7 linked regions of the Homo sapiens genome follow. The protein of the gene in region 1 interacts with the protein of each later gene in a pairwise test. Each region holds a gene or a part of one and is shown in the gene's direction. Other genes may lie near its edges.

What was found.
Region 2: the proteins of TXN2 (region 1) and MIPOL1 interact in binary tests that used the Homo sapiens proteins (3 or more experiments, as listed by UniProt).
Region 3: the proteins of TXN2 (region 1) and TTC32 interact in binary tests that used the Homo sapiens proteins (3 or more experiments, as listed by UniProt).
Region 4: the proteins of TXN2 (region 1) and ZMYND12 interact in binary tests that used the Homo sapiens proteins (3 or more experiments, as listed by UniProt).
Region 5: the proteins of TXN2 (region 1) and SYCE1 interact in binary tests that used the Homo sapiens proteins (3 or more experiments, as listed by UniProt).
Region 6: the proteins of TXN2 (region 1) and GPRASP2 interact in binary tests that used the Homo sapiens proteins (3 or more experiments, as listed by UniProt).
Region 7: the proteins of TXN2 (region 1) and RBM45 interact in binary tests that used the Homo sapiens proteins (3 or more experiments, as listed by UniProt).

What each region holds. Positions count from the first base shown.
Region 1 is NC_000022.11:36,475,141-36,478,640, reverse strand, and holds part of TXN2 (thioredoxin, mitochondrial precursor), read left to right. Parts: intron 1-1,784; coding exon 1,785-1,908; intron 1,909-3,500.
Region 2 is NC_000014.9:37,498,437-37,501,936, forward strand, and holds part of MIPOL1 (mirror-image polydactyly gene 1 protein), read left to right. Parts: intron 1-1,471; coding exon 1,472-1,702; intron 1,703-3,500.
Region 3 is NC_000002.12:19,896,131-19,898,983, reverse strand, and holds the end of TTC32 (tetratricopeptide repeat protein 32), read left to right. Parts: intron 1-948; coding exon 949-1,115; intron 1,116-1,857; coding exon 1,858-1,997; 3' UTR 1,998-2,353; downstream 2,354-2,853.
Region 4 is NC_000001.11:42,442,523-42,446,022, reverse strand, and holds part of ZMYND12 (zinc finger MYND domain-containing protein 12), read left to right. Parts: intron 1-3,500. UniProt on the Homo sapiens protein: Required for sperm flagellum function and male fertility.
Region 5 is NC_000010.11:133,555,584-133,559,083, reverse strand, and holds part of SYCE1 (synaptonemal complex central element protein 1), read left to right. Parts: intron 1-132; coding exon 133-207; intron 208-869; coding exon 870-917; intron 918-1,165; coding exon 1,166-1,220; intron 1,221-1,927; coding exon 1,928-2,017; intron 2,018-2,261; coding exon 2,262-2,325; intron 2,326-3,036; coding exon 3,037-3,103; intron 3,104-3,180; coding exon 3,181-3,304; intron 3,305-3,376; coding exon 3,377-3,487; intron 3,488-3,500. UniProt on the Homo sapiens protein: Major component of the transverse central element of synaptonemal complexes (SCS), formed between homologous chromosomes during meiotic prophase. Requires SYCP1 in order to be incorporated into the central element.
Region 6 is NC_000023.11:102,715,448-102,718,233, forward strand, and holds the end of GPRASP2 (G-protein coupled receptor-associated sorting protein 2), read left to right. Parts: coding exon 1-1,939; 3' UTR 1,940-2,286; downstream 2,287-2,786. Other genes in the region: ARMCX5-GPRASP2 (G-protein coupled receptor-associated sorting protein 2), read left to right, coding at 1-1,939. UniProt on the Homo sapiens protein: May play a role in regulation of a variety of G-protein coupled receptors.
Region 7 is NC_000002.12:178,118,937-178,122,436, forward strand, and holds part of RBM45 (RNA-binding protein 45), read left to right. Parts: intron 1-1,350; coding exon 1,351-1,473; intron 1,474-2,237; coding exon of another isoform or gene 2,238-2,243; coding exon 2,244-2,423; intron 2,424-3,500. UniProt on the Homo sapiens protein: RNA-binding protein with binding specificity for poly(C). May play an important role in neural development.

The sequences.
Region 1 (3,500 bases):
GGTGTGCACCACCACACCTGCTACTCAGGAGGCTGAGGCAGGAGAATTGCTTGAACCCGGGAGGCGGAAGTTGCAGTGAGCCGAGATCGCGCCATTGCACTCCAGCCTGGGCAACAGAGTGAGACTCCATCTCAAAAATAAATAAGTAAGTGCTGAGAATAAAATAGGAGTTGTCAGCCAGGGGTTTGTGAAAGGTGGAACTGTCTTGGCCTCCTGGTGTAGTGAGCATTCCAGAGAGGCCTTCCGAAATGAACAATAAATGGGATAATGCCTCATTTTGTTCAGTAAGGAAGTGGGGTGGTGTGAGTTGTTCATTCAGTGCCAGGCACTTTCCTTGGTGCCACATACATAGAGATGACAGCACCAGGCCTGTCCTGGATGAGCTTCCCCAGCGAGAGGGGAATACCTATGATCAGGGCAGTGATAATGGTCAACTCAGGGGCTGTGGGATCAGAGTAGCCTGTGGGTGAAATAAAACACTTTCTCTTTTTTTTTTTTTTTTTTTTTTGAGACAGAGTCTCTGTCGCCCAGGCTGGAGTGCAGTGGCACAATCTCAGCTCACTTCAACCTCTGCCTCCCAGGTTAAAGTGATTCTCCTGCCTCAGCCTTCCTAGAAGCTGGGATTACAGGCGCACACCACCACTCCTGGCTAATCTTTGTATTTTTAGTAGAGACGAGGTTTTACCATGTTGGCCAGGCTGATCTTGAACTCCTGACCTCAGGTGATCCGCCTGCCTCGGCCTCCCAAAGTGCTGGAATTATAGGCGTGGGTCACCGCACCCGGCCAAAGAAAACACTTTCAACACAGCTTTGGGTTGTGATCGATCCCAGCTGTGCTTCTCTAATCTTGCACAGGTTTCTTAACTCGTATGGGCTTCAGTTTCTTTGGAAGGTGTGTTCTCTTTGCAGAGTTGAGGGGTGTGTTTGGTAAAAGCAGAGAAAGTGAGCCAGGGACTGGTGCGTTGTAGACGCTCCAGGCCATTGGTTCCCCTCCTTTTAGTTCTGAGTCCACATGGTGTTTGAAATATCCCCACAGCTTCCAATGCATGTTTACCCACATTGCCTTAGTTGATCTCTCCTAATAGCTTTGAGAGCCATAATCTCTCTTTTTCAGATGAAGAAACTAGGGCCCAGGCCGGGCGCGGTGGCTCATGCCTGTAATCCCAGCACTTTGGGAGGCCGAGACAGGCGGATCACGAGGTCAGGAGATCGAGACCATCCTGGCTAACACGGTGAAACCCCGTCTCTACTAAAAAATACAAAAAATTAGCTGGGCGTGTTGGCAGGCACCTGTAGTCCCAGCTACTGAGGAAGCTGAGGCAGGAGAATGGCGTAAACCAGGGAGGCGGAGCTTGCAGTGAGCCGAGATCGCGCCACTGCACTCCAGCCTGGGGGATAGAGCGAGACTCCGTCTCAAAAAAAGAAAAAAAGGAAACTAGGGCCCCAGAATAATCAGCTGGTTGGTGAGAAGCCTCTGTTTGAACCTTTTAACTTCCAATCCCATATCCTTTTATATGACAGTATATTTATCTGAGATATACTGAAATGAGTCACTTTTATTATGAGTCTTCTGATGAGGCCTGTGTTTTAAAAGTCTGGGATCTGTGAAGATTTCCCATGTGCAGAATCTCCTGGCATTACCATTTGGTGTGTTAATTTTTAAACATGGTAAACAGAGATAATAAGGGCAAAAGATTCCTTGGAAAGATGCAGGTCTGGGAAGCCAGTAGGGGATGCTGAGCGCTCTTTTGACTGACTGGATGCTTCCTTTCTCGCCTTTTGAGGTGGTGTGGACCCTGCAAGATCCTGGGGCCGAGGTTAGAGAAGATGGTGGCCAAGCAGCACGGGAAGGTGGTGATGGCCAAGGTGGATATTGATGACCACACAGACCTCGCCATTGAGTATGAGGTATGGATTGACAGGGAGTTGCCACAGGGAAGCCAGTATAGGAGGTGTCAGGCCCAGGGATAGCTGGTGTAGGAGGTATCTTGGGGAGCACAGGTAGCCAGTAAGCAAGGTGTCTTGGTTTTTCCAGAGCTTTTTTTTTTTGAGACGGAATCTCTCACTGTCACCTGGGCTAGAGTGCAATGGCATGATCTCGGCTCATTGCAACCTCTGCCTCCCGGGTTCACGCGATTCTCCTGCCTCAGCCTCCCAAGTAGCTGGGACTACAGGCGCACACCACCACGCCCAGCTAATTTTTTGTATTTTTAGTAGAGACAGGGTATCACCATGTTGGCCAGACTGGTCTGGAACTCCTGACCTTATGATCCACCCACCTTGGCCTCCCAAAGTGCTGGGATTACAGGCATGAGCCACTGCGCCCAGCCGGTTTTTCGAGAGCTTTTAAGAGCTCAGAGCACTTTGCAGAGGTGGCTCTTGATCCTCTGAGCCACCTGTCTCTCTTCACCACCTTTAGGAAGTAGATCGTATGACCCAAAAACACCAGGTCATTCACTTAGTCTCAGACATTGGTACATTCCTTTATCCATCTACCCACATGTTCAGTGAGCAGTCATTTGGGAGCTCGATGTGCCAAGCATTTGTGATTCTGACACAAGATGAGATCTTGTTTCCAAGCAAGATCTCTCCTAGTCTAGCAGGAGAGAACAGCAGGTAGAAAGATCATCTCAATATAGAAGTGCTAAAAGAAGAGGCGCATAAAGGAAGAAGGGACTGTTTGCTTGTGGGGGAGCTGGAGGGGACAGGGAATGCTTCACGTTAGAGAGAACCTCTGAGCTGAGCCATGAGGGATGCGCAGAGGAGGAGGAAGGGCTGAGGAAACAGCGTGCACAAAGACATGGAGTCGTCTCACTTGGTTGGTTGGTTTGTCTGTTTATTCAGCAGATATTTGAGAGTCCCTCAAGTGCCAGGTAGTGTTACTTGGTGTTGAGGATAAGGCAGTGAACAAAACTGACAAAATCTCTGCCTCCGTGGAGTCTACATTCTAGTATTTTAAATCAAGGGTCAGCAAACTTTTTCTCTAAAGGACTGGTTGGTATTGGAAGCATTGCAGGGCAGTGGTCGCTGCTACAACCATTCAGCTGGGCTCGTAGCCGAAAGCAGCCATAGACACTATACAAACAAATGGGCATGGCTGTGTTACAATAAAACTTTATTTACAAAAACAAGCAGTAGGCTGTATTGGGCCTGTGAACTATAGTTTGCTGACCCCTGTTTTAGATAATAAGTTCAATGGAGAAAAATACATCAGGAAGAGAGGATGGGAGTACTGCGTATGAGGCAGGGTTTTTGTTTTTTCGAGACAGAGTTTTGCTCTTGTTGCCCAAGCTGGAGTGCAGTGGCACAATCTCGGCTCACTGCAACCTCTGCCTCCCGGGTTCAAGCAGTTCTCCTGTCCCAGCCTCCGGAGTAGCTGAGATTACAGGCACGCGCCACCACGCCGGCTAATTTTTTGTATTTTTAGTAGAAATGAGGTTTCACCATGTTAGCCAGGCTGGTCTTGATCTCCTGACCTCGGGTGACCCACCTGCCTTGGC
Region 2 (3,500 bases), on another chromosome or scaffold:
GAGATAAAGAGGGTGAGCTGAAGAAAATTGGAACTTGGAACAGACAAGAATGCAGAAAGTGAGAGGACACAGAAAAAATAGTAAAATGGGCAAGAGACAGCCTTTAAGCATATGGGTTGGTAGAAAAATCTGAGAAGAAATGAAGTAGGGATAGTTAGATTAATAACAATGTGCAAACCATGAAAAAAGGTATTTTTTGCACTCTACAAATGTGGCACTACACACTATTCTAATTTTCTGTGTAGTAACCAGTTGACCAGCGCTTAGTAACAGTCCGTATTCTTAGGGGTTTGAATCCTGAAGTGGTTTCATTTGGTATGCTGACTGTCCTTGTTTCATATCCATCCTAGTTCTATGGGACGCCTTCTCCAAAATAAGCATACTGTAAAGGCTTATAGATAACTTAAACTAAAAGAGGAAATTTATAATTACTTTGAACAGTTTTAAAGAAAGTATCAGGCTAGATATTAGGACAATGCCAAAGTTCACTAACTAGCTTTTTGCAGGTTTAATAATGATATTGCTTTCCTTCCCATTATCAATCTATATTATATAGTTAAGTTGTTTTACTTCAAATGTCTCCAATCGACATTTCCTTTGTATGCATATACTGAAATGATATTTAATAAAAAAGAACATCTCCTGTGTGGAGTTTAAATTTCTCTTATTAAATATTTATATTTTCAAAATGTCTTTATTTAATTGAGTGAGGTGCTTGGTGCCATTTCAAAATAACCTCAGGTGGTAGGTGTAATGACATATCAAAGATTTGACCTTTAGCATTTTAGGATTCTATTTGTCTGCATTTTCTTCTGCATTCATTTAGTCTTAATTTATATGCTATTTCTCTGTATGACTTAATGAGTAGATGTATTCGTTAAGAGATTCATTAGCCAAAAAAAAATATACACATGTATATATGAATACATTTTATTTCTGTGCAATCTGACTAGTGATTTTAAATTCATTTATATCTCAACTGTGACAAGTAGAAGATCAAGTAGAAAATGCTATGTAGAAGGCTGGTCAGTGTTTGCATAAACCTCATCCATTCTCATTAAGTGCTTGGCAGAATAGACCCTCGATCTCCTAAACCAATGCCCATTCTCTTCTCACTTCTTTCAGCTTATTACATTCTTTTATTTGCCTAGAGATACTTTATTTTCCAGTTCTCTGCTATTCCTTTTAAAGAAAATTGAATGTAATATTTACACTGATATAATTAAATTAACATCTTGCAGCATCTTTTTGTATGCTTTGGTAGCATAATCATTTGTCTGGGTAGCTTTCAGCCTAGAAGCAGAGAAATTATCAATTATAATGTTGTGACATAAAAATTATTTTCATTTGCTCATTTAAGTATTTATTGATTTTTAGAACTAGAGATTCTAAATGGAGGTTTTTGTTAAATAGATCATAGATCACTCAGTTTACATTACTTATCTTTAAATTTTTTTTAATATTTTCTCAGTTTACACAAATCTTTATCTCAAGAAGAAAATCTGAAGGATCAGTTTAACTATACCCTTAGTACATATGAAGAAGCTTTAAAAAACAGAGAGAACATTGTTTCCATCACTCAACAACAAAATGAGGAACTGGCTACTCAACTGCAACAAGCTCTGACAGAGCGAGCAAATATGGAATTACAACTTCAACATGCCAGAGAGGCCTCCCAAGTGGCCAATGAAAAAGTTCAAAAGTAAGTTAAATGATCTTGTAATAATACTTCAAACACATGAAACAAAACAAAACACTTTCTTTTGGGAACTAAACAATATGTAGTTATTGATCATGTTAATAGTTTAGAACAAAAGTAGAATTAACCCAGTGAACTTTTTTAGATTGGATACCATATGCCATATTTGGGGTCAAAAAAGTCATTTTCTTGGGAACCATTGTTACCCTGTAGGGCAAACCATTTTTATTTAATAACTGATCATCAGTTCATGGAGGCCATACTATTTAAATCATTTCACAGTCACAAGTTAATAGGCAAAGTTATTAGCAAGGGGAAGAGGCAGTCAAGTTACCACCTGAACTAATTTAGCTTTACAATAATCCTGCTTGAGTTGAGATCATCTGTGACATTGCAACCTGAGACTTGTAGGTGCATAAAAACCAGTAGGGTGAAATTAATTTTCTTGTGTTGTTCTTCTGAAGTATTCAATACTGCTTTTCACAGTGCATAATTATATATGTTTATTTTGAATGATCTTTGCATTTTTATTAGAATTTAAATAAAGCTGCATAATCTGTCAGTCCTTTTGACAGCTAGCAAAATGTTAACAAACAGCTTACCAGGCAAAGAAGTCACTTGTTAATTTAATGGACTTGAACATTGTAGCAGAATTTTCTGAGACACCTTTAATGTAATAGAACCACTGTAATAGAATACATAGAACACATGTAATAGAATATATTTTAACCTTCTTTATGTATTGTTAACAGCACTACAGCATTCACATATCTAGTCACCTTCAATTTCAAAGATATACCTTTTTCCTTAACAATTTTTATGTCAGTTTTACACTGTGAAGCAGTGCTCACATCAAGGTTTCTTACTTCCCACTACTTCTTATTTGAAAATGTCATCTTGACCATTTCCTCAATATCCCTGAAGTTATATTTTGATTAATAGCCAAAGTTATGTAAGTCAGTAGTTTTAAATTAGACCATTTTAAAACAGTTTAGAAATTGTGCATTTTAATCTTTACTAGCCATGTACCTTGAAACTTTTGATTTATGTAGGTATTATATATATTTGTAAGTTTAAAGATGGGGTTTATATTCAGTCAGAAACTATATGCAGTTATTCACAATGTACGTTAATATTCTAAGAACACTATGATGTATAGGTAGATCTCATTTCATTATAAATCACAATCAGTAACTTTTGACAGGATCTGATTTGGCTCTGTTTGCTTAAAGTCTACAAATACATACAAATTTCAAATTTTTCTTTATATATAATCCATTAATTTCTATACATGACCAAAATTCCCTAAAACAGTGGTTCCCACAGACCAATTCTATTTTCAAAAAATCTTCGGATGTGTTATCAACCTTTTATTTTTTAGATCTCATCAACTATCATCATCATTTCATTTAAAAAAACAATTTTTATACACCAAGAAGTAGAAATAATATCATCTCAGATAATGTTTTAAATTAAATAACTTTACTGAATGGCCAAGATAACCAAATAGGAACAGCTCTAGTCTGCAGCTCCCAGTGTTGATCGACACAGAAGATGGGTGATTTCTGTATTTCCACCTGAGATACCTGGTTCATCTCGTTGGGACTGGTTGGACAGTGCATGCAGCCCACCGAGGGTGAGCCAAAGCAGGGCAGGGTGTCACCTCACCTGGGAAGCACAAGGTGTCGGGGGATTTCTTTTTCCTAGCCAAGGGAAGCCGTGACAGACTGTACCTGGAAAATCGGTACACTCCCACCCAAATACTGTGCTTTTCCCACAGTCTTACCAACCTGCAGACCAG
Region 3 (2,853 bases), on another chromosome or scaffold:
GGTATTACAAAGAAGTGACAGATGAATTCTCTGTTTGGTTCTAATTTGAGAATTGCTTTGGGAAAAAAGAAAGGGAAACAGAATCATCCCTGACTCAGAGCAGAGGCACTAATGTTCTCTGTGCAGACTATTTGTCCTGTGCAGAGAAAGGTTCAAGGCAGCCAGGGGCTGTGACCTGTTGAGCTGGTGGCTGGTCAGAGCTACCTGGCTGTACAGCCCAGGAATGGCTGCTAATTTAAAGCTCTTTGGGCAACCTCTAGTTCCCTCAGGTGCAGAGCCAGTTCTGCACAAAGGACATCAAAATTGACTGGAGCCCTGAGGGGGTCTAAAGGAGCCCACCCTCCTAGCAGGAAGCCAGCCTGGCATTGGGGAGGATGCCAGCTGAGGCTGGAGGGAGGGCAACTCTGTCCCCAGAGATAACTTCCTGGGGATCGTAGCATGTTGAATTTTCACTTAGCGTTAACTTTAGTTTTTTATTGGTGGAAAATGATTTCAAATCTTATTGTTTTAAGATCACTTAAAAATTTGAGAATGAAATTGATTCACATTGTGACATATCCATAGCAAACTCGGGCTTTGGGCTGGCTTTCCCTCTTTGCTTAGTATTTATCTGTTCTGTCTTCTTTGCCCTGCTGGTGTGTGCTTAGAAAAATGAACAATCATTTTAATGTTATATTCAGCAGAACAAATTGGCAGTGAACACACTGTAAAGTTAGTATGCTTTTCAGGTTGACATTGCAGTGGTATAACCCTACAAAAGTAGATAACAGGGTTAAACAAAAATTGATTTTAGCTCTTTATTTGTACGTTTTTTCTTCAGCTTGGATTTTCAGTGTTGATGCTGCATGTTATAGGCTGTGAAGTTTGACAATACCCAAAAGAGAATGAAAGTGGAAATGAGAGGAATTTGGTAACACGGTGTTTTTAATGTGAACTTTTTGTTTAAAGCAAATGCAGCCCTGAGGATTTGGCTACTGCATATAACAACAGGGGGCAAATCAAGTACTTCAGGGTTGATTTTTATGAAGCCATGGATGACTACACATCTGCCATAGAAGTCCAACCCAATTTTGAAGTTCCATATTACAACAGAGGGTTGATACTGTATAGGCTGGGTAAGAATTTTTTTTCTTTTTGAGTTTTGTCATTGACTGTATTCTGTTATTTCAGAGCTTTCAAATGTTGTAAAACTAACGTGGTAATCAAATTTTAAAGTTCTGTGAAATTTAGGTTTAGAGCTTGGAACAAAGGAAGTGTCCCTGAGTTTATTTTAGGCTTTTGATAGGCGTTATAGATCACAGCAGAGCACTGGGGTGGGAATTGGACCTGGGCGCAGGAGCAGGGGTGACCCCATTACTTTGTGCTTGTGCATTCCCAGCTGTGAAATGAGGGCAATTCAGATGTTCACCTGTGAAACTTTTCTGAGTTAAAATCTTTGAAGACACACAAGACAATAGAAAGTGAAGTTTAGATTCTTGGATTAAAGGGACCATAGGTAGTGTTTCTTCATTTAAAGTGTCAAAAAGAAAATTAGTTCCCGTTTCTTAATTTTACTGCAATTATGTAAAACAGGTGATACAGTTTTATTAAAATTTTAAGATGATTGATAATATTTACCTGTTAAATCTCAATAAATAAACCCATAGCTAATTTTAGGTGTATTATTCCCTAAGGGCACACAAAATTACTTTGATATACACATCTCTATATTATTAAGATAAAAAGATTCCTTTACTAGAAGTGACTGAAAGCTCATAAATATAAAAGCAAAAGTACATGTATCAAAGCTTTTCCATGAATAATATATAGAAATACTCGGTTTCTTTTCTCTTTTCCATTTTTTGGGTTCTGGTACAGGATATTTTGATGATGCTTTGGAAGATTTCAAGAAGGTCTTAGACTTAAATCCTGGATTTCAAGATGCTACTTTGAGCTTAAAACAGACTATTCTAGACAAAGAAGAAAAACAAAGAAGAAATGTTGCAAAAAATTATTGATATTTTTAACTTAATGGAAGTATTGATTCATGATCCTTACATCTGCATCTAGTTATCAGTAATTTAGATATTGAGCTATTTTGATTTATATTTAAGAAATTAATACATTAGCACTGAAAGTTAAATAGTGTGTTTAAGGTAGTTAATTTCAGGTTGAATGGGTTTTTTTTAATGAAGTGTAAATAATACCAATGTATAAGTGTATATTATTATATTAAATATTATAGTAAAAAGGAATGTGTGGTATTTTCTTCAGCAAAACTATTTTTGTGATTTTTTTATTCTCAACTTTTTATTTAAAAAATGTTACATCTGCAGAAAAGTTGAAAGTATAATAAACTCTTCAGTTAAATTCATGAGTTGTTAATATTGTGCCACATTTGCTTTTTCTATTTAAATATATAACTTTTTGCTGAAACATTTGAAAATAAGGTGACGAGGTCACAGTACTTCGCCCCTAAATATTTCAGCCTACATTTTCTAAGATTGAGGACATCCTCCTTTATAACCACAATACCATTATAATACCTAATAAAATGAATAATTCTGTAATGTCAGCCATATCCAGCCCATATTCCAAAGTGTGTAGATTTTTATTTGGATCTAGAGCCAATCAGGTTTCAATTGCATTTTTTTTTTTTATGTTTCTCTCAGTTCTTTTAATCTAGTCCCCTGTCCATTTTCTTGCCCTAGCATTGGCTTTGAGAGAAAGGCTATTTTATATAGCTAGGCTAGAGAGACATAACATTTAGGCTTAAAAATAAACATGTCCTACAATTTGAAAGAGTTCAGCTTGAATTACACTTGATTTTCTCAAGTAATCATTGATAAAAATAGGTTAAGATTTAAATATTGA
Region 4 (3,500 bases), on another chromosome or scaffold:
CCCAGGTCTGACACCCCATTCCAGACTGTCTTTCCTCCAAAGTAATGAGAAAAGCACTGGACAAGAAAATACAGCCCAGGTTCTGTTTACCTCTGACACTGGCTAGCTATGGGATTCTGGAAAAGTCACCCTAGCCCAAGTCTCATCATCTCTCATCTAGACCACTGCCTACTAACTGGTCTCCCCACATCATCTCTGGCCTCCCTCCAATGTGGTTTGCATACAAAAATGTGACCCATCACTCCTCTAAATAAAGATCAAATTTCTAAAGCAACCCATGAGGCTCTGCTTGATCTAGCCGTTAACAAATTCTCTCACCTCAATTCTATCACCTTGTCTCTCTTGAATTATTTTCTCCCTCCCTTCCAGTTACACCGACCGGCCTTCTCTCAGTTCCTCAGAAGCATGATGATTTCCTTGTTTGGAAAGGCTTTTCTGTAGCCACTCTCTCTGCTTCTCCTCCTCTTCCCTTCACCAAATTAACTCCTTATCATCTTTCAGGTTTCAGCTCAAGGGTTACTACTGCCTTGTCTAGAAGCTTTCCCAGGGCTCCAGACCAGGTTGGGTCTCCCCTTTTTTTTTTTTTTTTTTAGACGGAGTCCCGATCTGTTGTACAGGCTGGAGTGCAATGGCCTGATCTTGGCTCACTGCAACCTCTGCCTCCCAGGGACAAGTGATTCTCCCACCTCAGCCTCCCGAGTAGCTAGGACTACAGGCACGCACCACCACGCCCAGCTATTTTTTGTAGTTTTAGTAGAGATAGGGTTTCAGTATGTTGCCCAGGCTGGTCTTGAACTCCTGGCTTCAAATGATCCACCCACCTCAGTCTTCCAAAGTGCTGGGATTACAGGTGTGAGCCACCGCACCCAGCTGGGTCTCATTTTTAATATACTTGTTTAAAGAACTACCCTTTCTGGCCGGGCACGGTGGCTCACACCTGTAATCCCAGCACTTTGGCAGGCTGAGGTGGGCGGATCACGAGGTCAGGAGATCGAGACCATCCTGGCGAACACGGTGAAACCCTGTCTCTACTAAAAATACAAAAAAATTAGCCGGGCGTGGTGGCGGGTGCCTGTAGTCCCAACTACTCTGGAGGCTGGAGCAGGAGAATGGCATGAACCCGGGGGGCGGAGCTTACAGTGAGAGGAGATCGCACCACTACTGCACTCCAGCCTGGGTGACAGAGCGAGACTCCGTCTCAAAAAAAAAAAAAAAAAAAAGAACTACTCCTTTCTTCTGAGCACTTAGTCCATTAATAATTGTATTCATTGATGAGATTATTTAATTGTCTCCCTGCTCCAGTAGACTGTAAGCTCAGGGGAGAACTGGATCTGTGTCTATTCTTAATTATCACGGATGTCTTCACACTCAGCCCAGTACTTAGCACAGAGAAGGTACTAAAAAGATAATTTCACAGTACCTGAAACCTCGTGAGCACTGTGTAAGTATGTGTTGAATCTGAGTTGTCTTCACAGGATTCTTTTAAGGGTGAAATGAGTTCGAGTGTAATGACCATGAAAGTGCTTTGAAGTCTGGAAAGTACTGTCTAAATGGAAGATTTCACTGTAACTTCACAGTCATTGGTTTAAAACCTTGCTAACGTTTCTGGAAGTCTAAAGAAATCACTTTCCTGTGCACATGTTTCTTTCCCATCTTAGAGATTACTTCAGACTGGAGTGATTTGGAAGCAGGAGAGCCTGAGTTCAAATATCATCTCTTTCTTTACTGTCTGGGTGATCGTAGGCACCAAGCTCTTCCTCACTCAGAGCTCTCACATATATGGTTCCTTCTGCCTGGGATGCTCTTTTCTCTCTCATACGTGGCTGGCTTTTGATCATCCTTCAGGTGTCTGCTTAAACTGGCCAGGCATGGTGACTCCCACCTGTAATTTCAGCACTTCGGGAAGTCGAAATGGGAGGATCTCTTGAGCCCAGGAATTCAAGATCAGCCTGGGCAACCTAGCAAGACCTCATCTCTTAAAACAAAAAAATTAGGCGGTCATGGTGGCATGCACTTATAGTAGTCCCAGCTACTTGGGAGACTGAGGTGGGAGGATTGCTTGAGCCCAGCAGGTGGAGGCTGCAGTGAGCTAGGATTTTGGTTACTGTGTTCTGTTCATTTCCTTCACAGCACTCATGTTTTGTCTATTTATTGTATGCCTACTTCACTTGATTTTAAGCTTCTTGGAGTCAGGGATCATGTCTTAGTGTGCATTGAGCATCATGCATTGTGATAGAGACTCAATCAATTAGGTGAATATATGTTTGGTTGAATGAATGAATGAAGTTGCCTCCTCTTCAAATTCCTCATCTGATGATTATTTCACAGGGTTGTTAGCAGACTTAGACCACCGATGCAAAGGGACTAGCACAATGTTGGGCAAATAACAGGTCTTCAATAAATACAGATTCCCTTTTCTTCCCCTGGGCACCTCACAGCCACAACCTTTGACTCAGCTGTGACTGCTGTATGCTGCATTCCTTCACTTTCATCACCAAGTCCTGCAAAATCTTCTCCCATAATATCTCCCAGATCTGCCGTTAACCCAGTGTAAGCCTGTTGCCTCACCCTTCAGACAAGTACCACTGGTCTGTAAGTGGCTGTCCTTTCCCAATTCCATACACTAGTAAAATCACCCTAAGGGATAGTATCACTTCCTTTATGTCTCCACCACCTCCACTTCACCCTATGCCTCTCCAGGTAGGCACTGTCCATAAGAGGCAGGCCTGAACTTACGCACTCACTGGTCACAAGCTTAGTTCTGACTGTAATCTCATGGGCTAGTAGTAGCCCATTCTTCTCACCGTACTCTCTCTCTCTAGCCTCACAGTTTATTCTCCCAAGTATGCCTTTTCCTTTAGGACTGATGCTTGTTTAGATGCTGGTTCAGCTGGGCCTTGGAGTCTTCATTCTTTGGCATTGCCTCCTTGAGTGAGAACTGGATGTTGAAAATTTTAAATTTCCAATATTTGTCAATGCCCTGTCCCATTTTTTTCCCATCTAAACAATCTTAGTTAAGAGTCATTTGCTTCTTCAAATGTGAGAGGACTTCAGCCTAAACCTCATATTTTATAGACAAAGCCTGGAGGGAAGATGTGACTTGCCATGTTCACATGAGCCAGGATCAGGGACTAGGCCTCGTGCTCCTAATCTAGTAGTTTCCCATTTTAGTTTGCACTTTGACCTTCCATCAGGCAAAGTTACTTCCTTCTTCTTGTAGACTGCTTCCTCTTCATCTCTTTTCCTTTAATTCAGTGATGTAGGGTTACAACTAGAATAAAAGCATGCTTACATATGAACTAGGTCTGACAGGAAGGACACAGAGGAGCAGAGGGTTGGCTTATGAGGGGTTCGTGTCCTTACCTCTTAACCCTTTGTTGATGCCATTTCTGCTGCAGCACCTATCACACCAATGCTTCGCCCCCAGAGCACGCCTCCTACCCTGCAGCACACTGACGTAGTGGCTTTCTATTCTGTTCTGACAAATTTCCCCAGGAGTC
Region 5 (3,500 bases), on another chromosome or scaffold:
GCTGGAAGCCTCGTTTCCTACTCTATAAAATCTAGGCCACTATAGATTTACCTGAAGGCAAATGAGAAATGTCACTGTTGGGAAGAGAATAGAGGCTGCACTCACACAATGTTTTTCTGCTCTTTGGTGAAGCAAAAAAGAAAGCCAATAAAGACCTAGGAGAGGCCCGGACCATCTGTGAGGCCCTGCAGAAGGAACTGGACTCGCGTAAGAGAGCCGGGGGTCACCCAGAGGTCCCCACAGTGTCTTAAGCCTCCCCTAACCCTGTATTCCAGATAATCAGCATCCTTGCCATGGCCAAGGGTCCTGTACCCTCTCTAGCCTCATGTCCTGCCAATCTCCCCCTCTCCTCTCTGCTTGTGGGAGTGTTCAGGAAACACCCTCCAACCTCATTCCCACCTCAGGGCTTTTGCCAGACGCTGTCTGTGCTTCCTCAGATAATACAGGTTCCTCTTTCCTCACATCATCAGCTCTAAGTTAGAATGTCCCCAGACAGGATGACTGGCATTCCCCAATCATCCCATTTAAAGATGGCACCCTGCCTCCATCTGGTCACATGCCCCATCCTATTTGATGTGTTTCTTTATAGCCCTTATCCCACTTCGTGGGTGTTGGTATTTTTTCTCTCCTCCCCATGTAAAAGCACGAGCATCCTCCAGGGCCCTCACAGCCACCCTCTGTAAATGTGAAGGCCCTTTGGTGCTTACAAGGAATGTGGGCACCAGAGGGTAGGGAGGGGCTCACCTCAAGGGTTCACATTTGGGTTGGGGCCAAGGCTGTGCCCAGCTTCCCATGTGACCGTGAGCAAGCCCCATCCCTGAGGGTGCAGTGCATAGTCCCTGATGCCAAAATGTGTCACTGTTTTCTAGTGCATGGAGAGAAAGTACACCTGAAGGAGATCTTGAGCAAAAAACAAGGTATTTGCCGCTCCCCTGTCTCCAGGCTTGTGCCTTTGCCAACCCACAGAAGCCCACTCTCCCTATGGCAGCTGAAGCCTTTTGAAACCTGTCCCAGCTTGCCTCTCTCCTGTGGCTTCCACCAGACATGTAGTAAATGTTAAAGCTCAATCAGGTGTCCACAGACCTGACATGATCTGGCTGTGTTCCCCCTGCCAAAACCCAATACCTTGACAGGTTCTCATAGGGCCCTGTTGCTCTCCCTACAGAGACCCTGAGGATCCTCCGGCTGCATTGCCAGGAAAAGGAAAGTGAGGCACACAGGTAAGAGCTTCCAGCTGAGCCTAACTCTGCACTACCTCTTTATTCTGGTAGAGCAGAAAGAGGCAGGAAGATGAATCTGAGACCCACAGCTCTCATTGTTTCCCTCTAAACAATGGAGAGTCCAAAGAATGTCTTTCCCCTTCGGCTCCAACAGCTGGCAGTAGTGTTAAGGGAAACTCTCTCAATGGCAAGACATTCATTTGCTAAATTGTCAATTAAATTTCTTCAGCTGGTTTTTATTTTTTGCCTTTTACTCTTTGTCATACTCCTTGGATGTCTATTCACTCATCTGTCTGTTCATTTAGGCATTGAGCCAACCATTTGTCCATTCTCTCTCCATTCATCCATTATCTTTTCATCCACCCATCGATTTGTCCATCCATTTCTCCACCTCCTGATTTAGCTCATTTGTTACCAGAGGCCCCAGGCCCTGGCACACTGAGATTTCAGCTCTTTGGGAAAACGAGATGATACTAAGATGTGTGTGCATTTGCTCACTTAACCATGTCCACATTAATCTCTCTTAACCTGACAACAATACTTCCAGGGGGCAAATGGTCATGTCACTCCCTACTTACCACATGTTACAGAGAAGGACCTTAATGTAGAGGGAAAAAATAGCCTCAATAGAGGGAGGCAGAAGCCCCAGCCCAGTGCCCTCCTGGGGCTTAAGAGAACATGGCTGAGGGCTGCCTCGCCTCTCCCAGGAAGCACACCATGTTGCAGGAGTGCAAGGAGAGAATTTCTGCCCTGAACTTGCAGATTGAAGAAGAGAAGAACAAACAGAGACAGCTGAGGTAAACCTTAGCATCTGAGGCAGGGGGTTTGGATGGCCAGTAGTTGGGATATAATGTCAAAGATGGGGGTTAGAAAAGCTGGCTACACTGAGCCATGGAGATTCAAGGTGGTGAAGATGTTCCCAGTGGAGCAGAGACCATGGGCAAAGCACCCCAAAATCTGCCTGAAGAACCACAGACTTGGACAGGCTGTGAAGGTGGTGATTTCAGCCCATATCCCCTCATGCCTGTGGTTGGTTCCCAGGTTGGCATTCGAGGAACAGCTGGAAGATCTGATGGGCCAGCACAAGGACCTCTGGGACTTCCACGTGAGTCCCTCAAAGCCACTCCTCCCCCTTCCACATCTTCCCTAGCAGCACCAGGCCCAAACGGTCACTTCTTCCTCTCACCTGCCACAACCAGTCGCCAAGCAAGCCCTGGTGGTGCTAAGATCGACATTGCCTGAATCCAGTCCCTTGTCACCTCCTTGTGACCCTGCTGCTCAGTGGTCAGGGGGATCTCTGATGAGACCAAGGTCAAGTCTTCCATCACTGTCCGTGGATGTGTCTGGGACCATCACGGGCACAAAGGAGACAACGAGGATAAGCAGCCCGTGTTTGTCCCCCAGGAGGATCCTAGGCACTGAACAAGAAAATAGACAGTGAGTGTCAGGAAGGAAGGGCTCAGTGAGGAGGTCACACCAGGACAGAGGGGAGTGGGGAGGAGCTGCAGAGCTAAACCGGTACCTGATCCTCCAGAAAACAGCCAAGACTCACAGTGCTTGCAGGTTTATCTGTTGTAAATAACAATCCATGAGCATCCCCACTGCAGTACCGCAGAGATGTGGGATGACAGAAGTGCACAGGGAGGGAATGGCCAGTGCCATGGCCCTGAGGCTGTACTGTAGCTGGTGTGCACAGAGGGGCAGAGTTGTTGGAAGTGAGGCATAGTGAGTAAGTATGAAACAAGATCCAGATAGCCTTCTTTGAGGCATGGGGGAAAGCCAAGAGGAGTGGACAGGCCTCTTTTCTGCCCCTCAGATGCCAGAGCGGCTGGCAAAGGAGATTTGTGCCCTGGACAGCAGCAAGGAGCAGCTGCTCAAGGAAGGTGAGACCAGGGAAGGTGGATGGCCCATATCTGACCTCACGTGCCTTCATGTGCTCACCTGCCCCTTTGTGCTGCAGAGAAGCTGGTCAAGGCGACACTGGAAGACGTGAAGCATCAGCTGTGCTCCCTGTGTGGGGCTGAGGGCCCCTCCACCCTTGATGAGGGACTCTTTCTCCGCAGCCAGGAGGCTGCAGCCACAGTGTAAGATGTGGAGGGGAAGAGGGTGGGAGGAGGGAGTGGCCGGTGCTGACCACCCCCTACTGGGCCCCCCAGGCAGCTGTTTCAGGAAGAGCACAGGAAGGCTGAGGAGCTCCTAGCAGCTGCTGCCCAGCGCCACCAGCAGCTGCAGCAGAAGTGCCAACAACAGCAGCAGAAGCGGCAGAGGTGCGTGTGGAGG
Region 6 (2,786 bases), on another chromosome or scaffold:
GCCCTGGTTTGGACCAGGGGAGGAGACTAATATGGGGTCTTGGTGCTATTCCAGGCCCAGGGCCAGAGAGGAGGCCTCTAATGAGTCTGGGTTCTGGTCAGCAGATGAGACCTCTACAGCGTCTTCTTTCTGGACTGGAGAAGAGACAAGTGTCAGATCATGGCCCAGGGAAGAGTCCAATACCAGGTCCAGGCACAGGGCTAAACATCAGACTAATCCCAGGTCCAGGCCCAGATCCAAGCAAGAAGCCTATGTTGATTCCTGGTCTGGATCTGAGGATGAGGCCAGCAACCCATTCTCCTTCTGGGTTGGAGAAAATACCAATAACTTGTTCAGGCCCAGAGTCAGGGAGGAGGCAAATATCAGGTCCAAGCTCAGGACAAATAGAGAAGATTGTTTTGAATCTGAGTCTGAAGATGAGTTCTATAAGCAGTCCTGGGTTTTGCCTGGAGAAGAGGCCAATAGTAGATTCAGGCACAGAGACAAAGAAGATCCTAATACTGCCTTGAAACTCAGGGCCCAGAAAGATGTTGACAGTGATAGGGTCAAACAAGAACCCAGGTTTGAGGAGGAAGTCATTATTGGGTCCTGGTTCTGGGCAGAAAAAGAGGCCAGTTTGGAGGGTGGAGCTTCAGCAATCTGTGAATCTGAGCCAGGAACTGAGGAGGGGGCCATTGGCGGATCCGCGTACTGGGCTGAGGAAAAGTCCAGTTTGGGGGCTGTGGCCAGAGAAGAGGCCAAGCCGGAGTCTGAAGAAGAGGCCATATTTGGGTCCTGGTTCTGGGACAGAGATGAGGCCTGCTTTGACCTAAATCCCTGTCCTGTGTACAAGGTCAGTGATAGGTTCAGAGATGCAGCTGAGGAGCTTAATGCATCCTCCAGGCCCCAAACCTGGGACGAGGTCACTGTTGAATTCAAACCTGGTCTTTTTCATGGGGTTGGCTTCCGATCCACAAGCCCCTTTGGAATTCCCGAAGAGGCTTCTGAAATGCTTGAGGCAAAGCCCAAGAACCTGGAACTTAGCCCAGAAGGAGAAGAGCAGGAATCTTTGCTTCAGCCTGATCAGCCTAGTCCTGAGTTCACATTTCAGTATGATCCTTCCTACCGGTCAGTCCGGGAAATTCGAGAGCATCTTAGGGCCAGGGAGAGTGCAGAGTCTGAGAGTTGGTCCTGCAGCTGCATACAATGTGAGCTGAAAATTGGTTCTGAAGAGTTTGAAGAATTCCTTTTATTAATGGACAAAATTCGGGATCCTTTTATTCATGAAATATCTAAAATTGCAATGGGTATGAGAAGTGCTTCTCAATTTACCCGAGATTTCATTCGAGATTCAGGTGTTGTCTCACTTATTGAAACCTTGCTTAATTATCCATCCTCTAGAGTTAGGACAAGTTTTTTGGAAAATATGATTCACATGGCTCCACCTTATCCAAATCTAAACATGATTGAGACATTCATATGTCAAGTGTGTGAGGAAACCCTTGCACATAGTGTGGATTCCCTTGAGCAGCTGACTGGAATAAGGATGCTTAGACACCTCACTATGACTATTGACTATCACACACTGATTGCCAACTATATGTCCGGGTTTCTCTCCTTATTAACCACAGCCAATGCGAGAACGAAGTTTCACGTTCTGAAAATGCTATTGAATTTGTCTGAAAATCCTGCTGTGGCAAAAAAACTATTCAGTGCCAAAGCTCTTTCAATATTTGTGGGTCTCTTTAACATAGAAGAGACAAATGATAATATTCAAATTGTTATTAAAATGTTTCAGAATATCAGTAACATTATAAAAAGTGGAAAGATGTCCTTAATTGATGATGATTTCAGTCTTGAGCCGCTTATTTCTGCATTTCGTGAATTTGAGGAGTTAGCTAAGCAACTACAAGCCCAAATAGACAACCAAAATGATCCTGAGGTGGGACAACAAAGTTAATATGATTAACCACCTGCCGCTGATCAGCCTTATGTTCCCAAAGAGCCCTGAGTAGTGCTTTGGTGTTCACAGTCTGTTTTTTTGTTGTAACTTATATTTTTTAATGCTGATGTTAACTTTGTCAAACTCTTGTTTTGAGCTGGATCATTTTGTGGATGCCAAATGAATATCAAAACTGAAAACACATTTGTTGATATTTGTCTTGCTGTCCAGATTGCGGTATTTTTCAGTATTAAGTTTTCAATGAACTGTGTCACCTAAGTAAGCTACCCTGCTATTCGTTGTTTAAATATATGGTTCTCTATTTGAGTCTGTGTTTTCAATAAAGTTCTATGTTAAAATTGGCATAAGTGACCCTTCTTCAGTTTAAGAACCATGTACAGATAAATCGTGTGCACTTACAAACATAGGTAATTATTAGTATGACAAACATGCGCTTATTAGAAAATTCTGTTCTTGAGTTAAGAAGGGAGAGATTATTGTGGGCCCTGATACTTGAGGAATGTTTCCGAGAAGAGGGACCCACTTAAATTGGTCAGGATAGAACAAATTGGTCAGGATAGGAGAGCAAGACAACTTGCCCGCCTGCTTGCCCAATTATGAGCCTTCCCAACAAGCAACCTAAAATTAATACTTCTTATAGGACCCATTTAAATTACCATCTTAGCCCTGGGATTTGCCTAAGGGTAGGATAAGACAAATCATTAGGTTGCTCTTGGAAGTGGGCAGTGGTGGTTTGAAGAAAAGTGTGTAATTGAATAATCTGTTCTAGTAGCATGGATGAACCCAGTCTGCTTGAAACAAGTAAAAGGAGTTTGATGAGAAATGCAGTTAGAAAGTTGGGAAG
Region 7 (3,500 bases), on another chromosome or scaffold:
TGAGTACCTGCAGTATACTGATCAATATGCTAAGTAGAGGGATACAGATGAAGTATATGGCAGCCCTCACATTTAAGGAATTTATAGCTGTATTGGGTAGCCAAGATCTAATAGGCAAAAAATAAAGAATAATGGAAGAACTTTTTTTAAAGGCTCTTTGAAAGCAAGAAGTATGCCTTATTTGTCTGTCACTCCAGGTATCTAGTACAATAATAGGCCCTCAATAAAGATTTATTAAGCTCTCTATAAAAGTAAATGCCATTTATAGTAGACTCAGTAAGAATTTGCCAAATGAAAAAAATGTTCATAAGTGTATGGTAGAGTCTGTCAATGGTGAAAAACAAGTGCTGGATGAGCATGGCAACACATGCCGAGGGGGTAGGACTTGTGTCTGGTGTCGAGGAGGCAGGACAGAAGGTGAGAGCAGTGCTAGCAGAGGCACAATGCCAGGAATAAACATGTGTTTTGCTTGGTGCTGTGAAGGCAGCTGTCTGAGTAAAGCACAGTATTTCTGCTGAGACATTCTGAGACACAGTTAACTAGGTACATTGGAACATGGGAACCATATATTGGAGGTTAGGAAAAGTTCAAGGTTAGTCCGCATTAGGATTCCTTTGTAGATTGTTTAGAAAGACAAAAGTAAGAACAGTTGATCTAACCCCACTGTATTAATGATAGATTTCCAGAGAAGAATTCAAACTGGCTGGTTTTATCCTTTTTTTAAGCCACTGAATAATGTGAAGAAAACTGAACCCTTGAAATATGCCCATGTGCACATAAATGCATAATAAGCATTTTGTTTGAAGTGTCAGAGGGTTTGTGGAATCTTCCCACCTTTTGAAGCTCATCCTTGGACCCCTAGTTAAGAACCCTTGATCCAGAAGCAAAAAAAACAGTTAAAGGGCTCTTGTAATTAATTGAAGAGAATCTAAATTAAAAACAGAGGCAGGGAAGTTAGAGTAAAAGATAGCATATTCCAATTGTGTGCATTTCAAAGGAAGAAACTTGGTGACAGGTTAAATATAAAGAAGCCCTACAGGATTTTAATGTTGAGGAGCTTAGGTGAATGAATGACGATGTTATCTGTAATAGGGGGAGATGGGAAAGGATAGCATAGAATTGCTGATCTTTCATGTCTACATTGACCCGTAATTTGGGATACTTGCTGTTTGTCATTTACTCTTTGCCATCTTCCAGAAAGCAAAGAAGTAGGTCTGGAGGAGATGGCCATTGTATAGATTTTGCTTTGTACAATTATATTTATAAAGCTGAGTCAGGCACTAGCAATCAAGTATATTTGCAGGTATGTTAAATTTGCTGTGAAACTTGAAATTCATGGGGTTTTTTCAGGTTTTAGAGCAATCTTGGCTGAACCTAAAAATAAAGCATCTGAATCCTCTGAACAAGATTATTATAGTAATATGAGGCAAGAAGCTTTGGGACATGAACCTAGAGTAAATATGTTTCCATTTGGTAAGTAGGCAACCTTTACTTTTAATAGTATAATGTAGTATATGCAATCTAATTTGGGTTTTAAAGAATACTCTGTTATTGGGCATCTATAAATTTCACCTAGTGAATAAAAATCTTAAATGTAGTTTTTTTATTCCTAAAATGTGGATTATGACTCCTAAAGTTCTTAATATTTAACACTTATTTTGTTTAACTGATTTCTAATTATAGTTTTCTCTGTTAAGTTACGCATTCCTCATATTAGAAACTATTACCACTGCCACTTTTTTGGGTGAGCTTCTGCCTCTATATAGCTGACCAAAAACTTAAAAAGACATATGTAGAGATCCTCTCCGTATGAGTCCTAAAATTTTGTTCCAGAACTACTGCTACTTTAAAATTAGGGCTACAGAAAGGAGAGGAATGGTAAAAGTAGAAGCTCTAATAGAAAAAGGGGAAAATGGGTAATGAAAGTAAGGCCTGTGAATGTTATTTGACGTAAACATTCAGGTAAAATACTTACCATATTTTTCAGTTTTGCATACTAAACTTCTTTCTGTGAAATTAGACTATGCATTTCTTCTTATATTTCTGCATTAAAGGTAGGGGAGTGGGGAGAGTTGTCTCTTCTTGTCATTAGTCCCATCGGTAGTTCTGATGACCAGAAGCGTACTACAAAATACAGTGCCTTTATTCAGTACAATGGACTCTGTTTTCTAGTATTTAAAATGTTAAGCGAATTGTTGGCTGTGTAGAAATCTAAAGATTTACTTTTTTTTATATTGTCGGAGAACAACAATCTGAATTTTCAAGTTTTGACAAGAATGATAGCCGAGGCCAGGAAGCAATCTCCAAACGCTTGTCAGTTGTATCAAGAGTTCCTTTCACTGAAGAACAGCTTTTCAGCATTTTTGATATAGTACCAGGATTGGAATATTGTGAAGTTCAACGAGATCCTTATTCAAATTATGGTAAAATAATGTTCACATTAAAAAATATATATATATGTATATATACACACACACACACACACACACACACACACACACACACACAGAGTTTTGTTAAAATGGCTTTTCTCTAGTGGCACTTTTATGTCAAGTACTGCTCATGTGACAGGAATTTTATCTTTCCTTTTTCTCTACTTTAGAATTCAAAATATGGTGATACCTTAATAAACAAAGCCCTGGAAATATATCTTCTTTTTACAAAATTGTTCACTGTAAAATATATTTTAACTCCCACAAAATATAACATTCTGTATTCCAGTTGCATAACAAAAAATACCTCTGGATAGAGCCTCTGTTTCTATGTACTCTTTTGGTTAATGCTAGACAAAGTTACGAAACTCACAAAATTTCCTCCTCATTCATCCCTAGATCTCTTTCTCTTAAATTTATACCCCTCCTTCCTTTCATTCCAAGCATCTAAATGCCCTGCTTCTCTCCTGCTTCTTCCAATTCTCAATGGAAGCAAGTCTCCAATATCAGCCATTTGAACTTATTAATTAGTTAATTGATTAAACCCATTATCTAACATTAGCTAACCCATCTTTGTGTTTTAAGCTTTTGATTTTATTAAGGCTCTTTGTTAATGGAGGCATTGTGGCATAATGGGAAAGTCTGGCATTCCATTTTGCATAGAATCGGGTACAAATCCCAGCAGTGACATGTAGCTTTGAGACCTTGGCAACTTGCTTATCCCCTCTGAGCCTCTCTTTCCTCGTATGTAAAATGGGATCATTGATACCTTCTTTGCCAGGGTTAGGTAAGAATTAGAGATAATATATGTAAAATAACTTAATGCAAGTTCTGGCATGTAATAGGGCACTCAGTAAATCTAAGGGGTTTTTTTTTCTTTGTTAGTGAGGGGTGGTAGAGAGAAATCATACTTGGTTGGCATCTCTTCCAGTTTTGTAAGGATACCTGATTTAGTCCTTTTAGAGTGGCATGGCTATTGACATAGAAGTAGTGACGTGAGTTTGGTCATGTGGACCAACAGGACTAAGGTAACTCCACCCTTCATACAGACACCCCCACATACTCACT